2 separate regions of the Homo sapiens genome follow, and region 1 is linked to region 2. The links come from fine-mapping of genetic effects on gene expression. A gene starts in region 2. The other region holds a variant in brackets. All regions are shown on one strand. Distances are from middle to middle.

What was found. PIP is the estimated chance that this variant, and not a neighbour inherited with it, causes the effect.
Region 1: its variant is the best candidate, but not a certain one, in a credible set for the expression of SZRD1 in whole blood (TOPMed, PIP 0.64).

Annotation. Positions count from the first base shown.
Region 1 is chr1:16,337,070-16,342,445 of GRCh38, forward strand. All of the region lies in intron 1 of FBXO42 (F-box protein 42), which reads right to left. Among named protein-coding and RNA genes, the nearest start is that of FBXO42, 13 kb to the right of the region's middle. The variant CT/C (reference allele first, on the strand shown) is at 3,255.
Region 2 is chr1:16,363,894-16,369,269 of GRCh38, forward strand. It overlaps SZRD1 (SUZ RNA binding domain containing 1), which reads left to right and starts at 3,349. Exons shown (of 4, transcript NM_001114600.3): 1 at 3,349-3,415. The coding sequence starts at 3,365. It also overlaps the pseudogene RPL22P3. RefSeq lists enhancers at 3,046-3,105, 3,856-4,145.

The sequences.
Region 1 (5,376 bases), 27 kb before region 2:
AGAGTGCACAGCAAAAACAACTGTCCAAAGATAAAAGAACAACCAAATCATTAGGTACTCAGAGGAAATCTCATTCAATATCTCCTAAGGTTCCAATGCTTCTCAAATTTTAATGTGAATCTAGTTTATAGATTCAGATTCAGTAAGCCTCGGGTGGAACTTGACACTGTATTCTCACCTTGATGATGCCAGCACTGCCAGTTTGGGGACCTTGAGTATCAAGGTCTTCAGTAACCATTAAAATGTAGCTGGTATCAACACTAGATGAGAAAATGGAATCAACAGGTATTGAGAACATGTGCCAGGTGCCTTATCTCATTTAATCTTTACGTCAACTCTGTGAGGAACATATTATCAATTCTAAGATGAGGATAAGATGAGGAAAATTGAGGCTGAGATAAATTAACTTGCCCATGATTACACAGAACCAGATTTGAACCCAATCATAGGACTCCATTTATTCTTTTTAAGAGATACTATAAATTGTCATTGAAATTAACTTCAAACCATCCTCAAAAGAATAATAGGCCAGGCCAGGCACAGTGGCTCACGCCTGTAATCCTAGCACTTTGGGAGGCCAAGGTGGGCGGATCACCTGAGGTCAGGAGTTCAAGACCAGCCTGCCCAACATGGTGAAACCCCCGCCTCTACAAAAAATACAAAAATTAGCTGGGCACGGCGACAGGCACCTGTAATTTCAGCTACTCGGGAGGCTGAGGCAGAAGAATTGCTTGAACCCAGGAGGCAGAGGTTGCAGTGAGTGGAGATCGCGCCACTGTACTCCAGCCTGGGAGAAAGAGCGAGACTCCGTCTCAAAAAAAAAAAAAAAAAAAAAAAAAAAAAAAAAGAATAATAGGCCAAACACAGTGGCTCACGCCTACACTTTGGGAGGCCAAGGAGGGAGGATTGGCCGGGCGCGGTGGCTCACACCTGTAATCCCAGCACTTTGGGAGGCCGAGGCAGGTGGATCATGAGGTCAGGAGATCAAGACCATCCTGGCTAACACAGTGAAACCCCGTCTCCACTAAAAATACAAAAAATTAGCCAGGTGTGGTGGCAGGCGCCTGTAGTCCCAGCTACTCGGGAGGCTGAGGCAGGAGAATGGTGTGAACCTGGGAGGCAGAGCTTGCAGTGAGCTGAGATCATGCTCCACTGCACTCCAGCCTGGACAACAGAGCGAGACTCCATCTCAAAAAAAAAGAGGGAGGATCGCTTGAGCACTGAAGTTGAGGCTGCAGTGAGCCTCTGCACTGTAGCCTGAGGAACAGAGTATGGCCCTATCTCCAAAAAAAAAAAAAAAAAAAAAAGAATAACAATGTTGCATGACATCTTGTCTTGGATACAGACTTTCACTTTCCTCTATTACCTGTTTCTTCAAAACGTCCTACCTTTTATTGTTATCCCCCTGCTTTGATGCTGGGCATTGTCATCCACACTTGAACCAAAATAGTAGACACCTACCTAACTGTTCTGACTCTAGCCTTTTGCCTCATCAATCTAGAGATTATTCTGCAGTCTCCAGGAATTTACTAAATGTGAGCAGACCAGTAGCATGGTAAAAACAGTGTTTCAAGAGGAATTCAAAGTACTTTACAATCCCACAATGCTCCTATCAAATCTCTCGGGTGGCATATAAACCTAGCTTCCCCACTGATAAACAAAAATATTCTGCAAAGAACATAATACATTTTAACAAGATGCTGTGATGGAATGGAACATTTTATTTCCATTTGTCTTTTTTTTTTTTTTTTTTTTTTTTGAGACGGTGTTTCGCCCTTTTCCCCAGGCTGGAGTGCAGTGGCACAATCGCGGCTCACTGCAACCTCCGCCTCCCAAATTCAAGCAATTCTCCTGCCTCAGCCTCCTGAGTAGCTGGGATTACAGGTGCACATCATCACCCCCGGCTAATTTCTGTATTTTTAGTAGAGATGGGGTTTCACCATGTTGGCCAGGTGGTCTCAAATTCCCAACCTCAAGCGATCCACCCATCTCAGCCTACCAAAGTGCTGGGATTACAGGCGTAAGCCACCCTGCCCAGCGGTCATTTATCTTTTTTCTAGTGGTGGTCAGGGCAAAGGAATGCCTTCCTGCTTCTGCCTCCTACTCACTTCTCTAGAGCAGAGGAGAGGACCTCCTTCCATCACAAGTCATTTCCTACTCCATTCCACATTAATCATTTCCAGAAGTCCATCTATACCATTACTTATCGACACAATGTCACACTATTTCATATTGTTATAGTTTTTTTGTTTTTGTTTTTTTGAGATGAAGTCTCACTGTGTTGCCAGGCTGGAATGCAGTGGCATGTTCTTGGCTCACTGCAACCTCCGCCACCTGGGTTCAAGTGATTCTCCTGCCTCAGCCTCCCGAGTAGCTGGGACTACAGGTGCGTGCCACCACGCCCAGCTAATTTTTGTATTTTCAGTAGAGACAGAGTTTCACCATGTTGGCCAGGATGGTCTTGATGTCTTGACCTCATGATCAGCCCGCCTCAGCCATCCAAAGTGCTGGGATTACAGGCATGAGCCACCACACCCAGCCATAGTTATGTTCTTATGTAAATTTTCTCAATAACCAGATTACACATTTTTGGTTAATACTTGCACAGCTGAACAGATTATGAATTTATGAAAGGTAGATAATGTCTTGATTACATCTTATCCCCAGGAAACCTAAAGGACAGTGGTGTATATGCACATGAAGTAAATCTTTGCTTCACCTGATCATAAAAATCACCTGGCCAAGCACGGTGGCTCACACCTGTAGTCCCAGCTACTTGTGAGTCTGAGGTAGAGGATCACTTAGCCTGGGAAATCCAGGCTGCAGTGAGCCATGATTGTACCACTGCGCTCCAGCCTGGGTGATAAAGCAAGACCCTGTCTCAAGAAAAAATTTAAAAAGTAAATTACCATCCTGGCTAACACAGTGAAACCCTGTCTCTACTAAAAATACAAAAAATTAGCCAGGCGTGGTGGCAGGCGCCTATAGTCCCAGCTCTTGGGAGGCTGAGGCAGAAGAATGGCGTGAACCCGGGATGCGGAGCTTGCAATGAGCCGTGATCGTGCCACTGCACTCCAGTCTGGGCGACAGAGCAAGACTCCAGTCTCAAAAAAAAAAAAGTAAATTAAAAAAATTAAAAATCACCTAGCAGGTAGATTTCCTGGAGACTGTTTCAGAAAAATAGGCATGAAAGCAGAAATCTTAATTCTATCAACAAGCACCACAGATCCAAATCCAGAAAACCTTTGGTAGTA[CT/C]TTTTTTTTTTGAGACGGAGTTTCACTCTTGTTGCCTAGGCTAGAGTGAAATAGTGCCATCTCGGCTCACTGCAGCCTCCGCCTCTCCCAGGTTCATGCAATTCTCCTGCCTCAGCCTCCCGAGTAGCTGGAATTAAAGGCGCCCACCCCGCCCAGCTAATTTTTTGTATTTTTAGTAGAGACGGGGTTTCACCATGTTGGCCAGGCTGGTCTCAAACTCCTGACCTCAAGTGATCCACCCACCTTGGCCTCCCAAAGTGCTGGGATTACAGGCGTGAGCCACTGCGCCCGGCCAACCCTCTACTGAGGGTTAGGGTTTTGCCATGCCAAGGTTAAGTTACTTCTAAAACTTAACCTTATGTTCTCATTTATAATTTTCTTACAATGCTTTATACACTTTACTGAGCAATAGGCTTAAAATACGGTTAATAAAACTTGCAGAAAAATACAAAATAGTATAAGCAGGAGTAGATATTATAGAACAACTGAACCCTTATTTCACAAATGAGGAAAGTGAGGTCAGAAAACCTAAGTGGCTTTAAGGTCATACAGCCAATGAGTAGCAAAAATAGAAACTGTATCTTTTGTCTTTCAGCCCAGCACTTCTTCTATTGTACCATACCAAAATTTATTTATAAAAAATCAGCAGTAAAGCATTATTTACTAATGTCCATCAAAAACAGACCAGTTGAACAAACTCTGGTGCATCCTCACTGTGTAGGTGTGGAAATGAATAAGGACTACCTCTGTTCCAATATGGAATGATCTCCAAAATATACTAGGTGAAAAGACCAAGAGGCTGAGCAGCGTATATAGTAGGAAAACCTTTTGCATAAGAGAAAAAAAGAATATATGCAGATATTTGCTTATTATTGCAAAATCCAACATTTAAAGGATAAACCAAAACCAAATAAATATTAGAATGGTTCAAGCACCAACCATGAGACAACCCTTGGCAATTCCTCCTCAAAGTCCCAGCTATAAAAGTGGTAGTAGGCTGGAAGCCGTGGCTCATGCCTGTAATCCCAACACTTTGGGAGGCCGAGGCGGGCAGATCATGAGGTCAGGAGTTCGAGACCAGCCTGACCAACATGGTAAAACACCGTCTCTACTGAAAATGCAAAAATTATTTGGGAGTGGTGGTGCACGCCTGTAATCCCAGCTACTCAGGAGGCTGAGGCAGGAGAATCGCTTGAACCTGGGAGGTGGGGAGGCAGAGGTTGCAGTGAGCCAAGATTGCACCCCTGCACTCCAGCCTGGGCAACCAAGTGAGACTGCGTCTTTTAAAAAAAAAAAAAAAAAAAAAAAAAGTGGCAGTAAGTTTGAGTGGTGGTCCCTACTATTTGATATTCTTAAAAGTTCTGGGCCGGGTGCGGTGGCTCATGCCTGTAATCCCAGCGCTTTGGTAGGCCAAGGCGGGCGGATCACCTGAGGTCAGGAGTTCGAGACCAACCTGACCAACATGGAGAAAACCCCGTCTCTACTAAAAATACAAAATTAGCCAGGCATAGTGGCGTCTGCCTGTAATCCCAGCTACTCAGGAGGCTGAGGAAGGAGAATCGCTTGAACCTGGGAGGCGGAGGTCGCGATGAGCCAAGATCGCGTCATTGTACTCAAGCCTGGGCAACAAGAGAGAAATTCCGTCTCCAAAAAAAAAAAAAAAAGTTCTGGGCCAGGCGCAGTGGCTCATGTCTGTAATCCCAGCACTTTGGGAGTCTGAGGTGGGTGGATCACCTGAGCCCAGGGGTTCAGGACCACCCTGGACAACATGGCAAAACCCTAACTCTACAGGCCAGGTGCAGTGGCTCACGCCTGTAATCCCAGCACTTTGGGAGGCCAAGACGGGCGGATCACTTGAAGCTGGGAGTTCAAGACCAGCTTGACCAACATGGAGAAACCCCGTCTCTACTAAAAATACAAAATTAGCCGGGTGTGGTGGCACATGCCTGTAATCCCAGCTACTCAGGAGGCTGAGGCAGGAGAATTGCTTGAACCTGGGAGGCGGAGGTTGCGGTGAGCCGAGATCACGCCATTGCACTCCAGCCTGGGCAAGAAGAGCGAAACTCTGTCTCAAAAAAAAAAAAAAAAAAAAACCCTAACTCTACAGAAACAATGGACACG
Region 2 (5,376 bases):
CTGCCCGCCTTGGCCTCCCAAAGTGCTGGGATTTACAGGCGTGAGCCACCGCGCCCAGCCCCGTCTGACAGTTTCAACCACTTTGCTGTTGCCAAGACTCAGTCAGGATAATTTACTTCAACGAATGGGTTCACAGTAGAATGTATTCCAAGTAAATATAATCTCACAGAGTGAATAAGCCAAAAATCCATGAAATTGGTGAACTCAACAGAATTACTGAGTTTTTGTGTGGTTTTTTTTTTTGGTTTTTGTTTGTTTGTTTGTTTTTTGAGATGGAATCTCACTGTCACCCAGGCTGGAGTGCAGTGGCATGATCTCGGCTCACTGGAACCTCCACCTCCCGGGTTCAAGCGATTCTCCTGCCTCTGCCTCCTGAGTAGCTGGGATTACAGGCATGCGCCACCACGCCTGGCTAATTTTTGTATTTTTAGTAGAGACGGGGTTTCACCATGTTGGTCGGGCTGGTCTACGAACTCCTGACCTCGTGATCCGCCTGCCTTGGCCTCCCAAAGTGCTGGGATTACAGGCGTGAGCCACTGCGCTCGGCCGAGAATTACTTGAGTTTTAGAGACTTAAAAGCTGCTAGTGGAATATCCATGTGGAGATGGCAATAAGAAGCCTAGCTGTAAAAATCAGAATCAGAAACACCAGGTCAGTTCACAGCTAGAAGTCAACTTTGGCAGTCTTCAGCATACAGTGGGTGGCTTATACCATGAACATCTAGGTAAGAACAGTGGACTGAGGACAGACCCTGGAAATGAACAATATTTCAGAGTCAGGAAGTTGTGAAACCAGAGAATTAGTAAGCATATCACTTAAGCTTCTAAATAAAGACCAGTAACATTTAACACATGGTTGCAGTTTATGATGATAATCATTAAGAATACAAATAACAGGACGGGCAGAGTGGTTCACACCTGTAATCCCAACACTTTGGGAGATTGAGGCAGGCAGATCATCTGAGGTTAGGGGTTCCAGACCAGTCTGGCCAACATGGTGAAACCTGGCCTCTACTAAAAATACAAAAATTAGCTGGGCATAGTGGCAAGCACCTATAGTCTCAGCTACTCGGGAGGCTGAGGCAGGAGAATCACATGAACCCAGGAGGCAGAGGCTGCAATGAGCCAAGATTGCGCCACTGCACTCCAGCCTGGGCGACAGTGAGACTATGTCTAAAAAAAAAAAAAAAAGAATACAAATTATGAAATTTCACAGCAGGAAGGTTTTACTTCAGAAAGATTAATGGCATACTAAAAATACAAGAAAAAACACATTCCAAGTCAGATAACTTGGTTATAGCAGCCAAATGCAACACTACTGAATGACATGTATTTAAAACTGAGAGAAAAACAGGAACATGTCAGTAAGAATATAAACACATGGTGTTTGCTTATCTCCCTGCCTTTTTTTTTTTTTTTGAGACAGAGTCTCGCTTTGTTGCCCAGGCTGGAGTGCAATGGCGCAATCTTGGCTCACTGCAACCTCTGCCTCCTGGGTTCAAGCAACTCTCCTGCCTCAGCTTCCCAAGTAGCTGGGATTACAGGTGCTTGCCACCACATCCGGCTAATTTTTGTATCTTTAGTAGAGATGGGGTTTCACCATGTTGACCAGGCTAGTCTTGAACTCCTGACCTCAACTGATTCGCCCACCTCAGCCTCCCACAGTGTTGGGATTATAGGCGTGAGCCACCGCGCCTGGCATCTCCCTGTCCTTATATTTTAAGAAAGGATGATTACAGAAGTGACAATTATAAATCTTCCTCGGGCAGACAAGACACTCCCATAATGATAATAGCTAACCCTTAGGACTCTTACTATGGGTCAGGCACTGTTCTAGGCATTTCAGCATAGTAACTGGTTAAATTCTTACAATCTACTTTTGAAGTAGCTATCTCTAATGTATACACTTGGGGAACTGAGACATAGAATCCTTATGTAACTTGCGTTAAGATCACACAGCTTTTTTTTTTTTTTTTAGTAGAGATGGGCTTTTGCCTCGTTGCCCAGGCTGGTCTCAAACTGCAGGGCTCAAGCGATCCCCCCGCCTCACCCTTCCAAAGTGCTGGGATTATAGGCGTGAGCCACCATGCCCGGCCACATAAATAACTTTTTTTTGAGATAGAGTTTTGCTCTTGTTGTCCAGGCTGGAGTGCAATGGCGCAATCTTGGCTCACTGCAACCTCCGCCTCCCAGGCTCAAGCGATCTTCCCGCCTCAGCCTCCCGAGTAGGTGGGATTACAGGCATGTGCCACCATGCCCAGCTAATTTTGCATTTTAAGTAGAGACGGGGTTTCTCCGTGTTGGTCAGGCTGGTCTCGAACTCTTGACCTCAGGTGATCTGCCCACCTTGGCCTCCCAAAGTGGGATTACAGGTGTGAGCCACTACGCCTGCCCTGACATAAATAATTTTTTTTTTTTTTGAGACAGAGCCTCACTCTGTCGGCCAGGCTGGAGTGCAGTGGCATGATCTCGGCTCACTGCAACCTCCACCTCCCTGGCTCAAGCAGTTCTCCTGCCTCAGCCTCCGGAGTAGCTGGGATTATAGGCGTGTGCCACCATGCCCAGCTAATTTTTGTATTTGTAGTAGAGACGGGGTTTCACCATGTTGGCCAGGCTGGTCTTGAACTCCTGACCTCAGGTAATCCGCCTGTCTCGGCCTCCCAAAGTGCTGGGATTACAGGCGTGAGCCACCGCGCCTGGCCAGTAATTTTTAGAGGTAATACTAACGTATTTATCTACCATTAAAGACCCAGGAGAACTTAGTAGCTGGGAATCCCACTGGTTCTCCCAACTGAGGTGCAATATTATCTTTACCGTCTTTACCTTACGGTAGCGGATATAGTGTTAATAAATGATTAGAATACTGCTTTATGAGCAGGAAATACTGTAATGATTTTCACCCTATCAGAAATAATAAAATGTTTTCTGCATCAGCAGATATTTTTCATCATTTGTTGGTGTTTAAAAATGTTTTCAGAATTCTGAAGATACCATTATCTGTAGTTTAGGAAAACTACGACTCACTTTAAAAGAAAAAAAGTTTTCTTTAATTGCCTGCCCTTAGAAAAGATGGTTCCACAGAACACACTTCCGGTACTCGAGATGAGGACTTCCCTTGAACGCCCATTCTGTAAGACAGATAACGCGTTGGCCCTTAAGAAAGATGGCATCTTTCCGCCTTCTCTGCCCCCTTCCAAGATGGCTGCCCTAATGTACACTTGGGACCTTGCCTGGCGCCTCTTCCGGGCTTGGCAGCGGGCGGGGTCCATTGAGTAAAGCCTTGCGTGCCTGCGCCCGCGACGGAGGCGCGCTTCAAAGCGCAGGCGCGGGGAGGGGGTGGGGGAGGAGGGAAAGCGGCGAGTAAGATGGAAGATGAGGAGGTCGCTGAGAGCTGGGAAGAGGCGGCAGACAGCGGGGTAAGGAGGAGCCGCCGTCCCATGGCAGGGCCGGGCGAGACCTGGCGTGAGGGGAGCCTCCGGGGAGCGGGTCTGGAGATAGTTCTCCCCAAGGAAGGGCCCCATACGCCGGGCTGGGGGTGGTGGAGAGGCCCCCAGTTCCTGAGCGCCGTGAAGGCCTCTTAAAGGGGCCGCGATCCATTTCTCTCCTTTCCTTTGCCTGGTGCGCCTCCCTCCGCCCACTAACGCGCGCGTCACCCGGGGCGCCCCACCCGCCACCCGGGGCCTCCTTTCCTGACCCCCCGCGCCCACTTGCTGGCCGTGGGCCTCTGTGACTCTTTCCGATGAGCCTTGTGGCCCGAGGCACCATTTTAAAGTTCTTGTGCTCTGACCGGGACGGACACACCATGTGGGTGGTGGTGGGGCTTGCGCGGACCAAGGAGGCATGTCCGGCTTCGCAGGAAAGCGGGAGGAGGCAGCCGAGGGCGGGGGGAAATTGAATCCTCTTTGGGCTACTCAACTCTGCTAAAATCCCCCACCATCCGTCACGGTGGACGAGTCGGGTTTTTTTTCTCTTTCACTTTTACTCCAAGAAGAGTTTGTGGGCAGGCAGGCAGGTCTCACGGGGACTCTGCCAAAGCAACCGAAAGCTCTGCGGGGCAGCTCCTCTGCCACTCAGCGATCCGAGGCCCCGGGAAGGTCTAGGAGTTCGCTTGTCGGAGTCCAGGGTGTGATATGTAAAACAGCCACATTCTTGGGAGAGGAGTGGGGAGATGGACCGTTCGACTTGTTTTTGGAGTTTTTGTTTGCCTCCAGAAACTGTAGGAAAATAGTTTATCTCAAAGAGGATCTGTCAATTCTCTTAGATTTGTGAATAATTTGGTCTTTTCAGAGTTTGTCTGTGGTGACCCTTGTGAATATGGGGAGATGCTTTTTTTGTCTCCCCGTGTTCGCGTCTGTTCAATGCTGGCTGCACTGACATCCACCTTAAAGGTTTACGTGTGCGAGGAGTCGAGCGTACCAGGGTAGAGTAGGCGCTGGGTTTTTTTTCCTAAGCGCTTTTTGGGGGTGCTTATGAGCTCTGGAAGAGGCCGGGAAATTGACCCTGGCAGCAGTCAGTGGGTGTATCTAGCTCTACGGGAATGTTGAAACTTGGCTTTGAAGTTTTTTCCGCTGGTTCAGCATTTCTCTCAACGGTTGTTTATGTTTTTCCATTTAGCATAATTGAGAATTTGAAGGATTCGTTCGTTCAGAGGATATTTAGTAGAGTTCTTAATGTGACAACCATCTTTCTTGAGTTTTGGCTTAAGAAAGTTAAAGATTTTATAGGGAGTAACAGGTGTCAGTTGGCTCCTTGTTCATTCAACCAGCATTTTTGAGTGTCTGCTATATGCTAGGCAGTGTGCTTATCAGTGACTTTGTGCCAGAAAATGCAACATTTTCGGTACAGGCGTTTATTGCCTACCACTAATCTGAGTGAATCATCCAGACATCCCTATAAAAAAGCTTGGCTTACAACTTTAATATCATGCAAATGATACGTTTCTTGGGCATCTTGGCCTTTCTTTGGTTTTCCTCACCTGTTTCAAAGGGTCATAAATCCCTCATGTTAGAGAAGTTGGAGGCAAATGAACAAAAATGAATAGGATTCAGCAGAAATTGGGGCTTACTTTAGTTTTTCAGAATGGGTAAGTCAATTAGAAATAGCTAGTACAGTCCCCCATTTAACAGCTGAATAAGCCTAGAGATGTGAGATTTAGAGACTTAGGTCTTTCTGACGCTTGTCGCGTGTTCTTTCTTTTTTCTTTTGGTTCCCAAGTTTTATTGAAAAACTTATACAAAATATTCCAGATAAATGAAATTTAATCCTCATCTTCCTCCTCTTTGTCCTGGTTAATCTGGAAGTAACATAATTTGTAGCTATCTTTGCTGTTAGTAACTAGGAGCAACCAATCACGTAAATTATTCTTCATATATGTTTT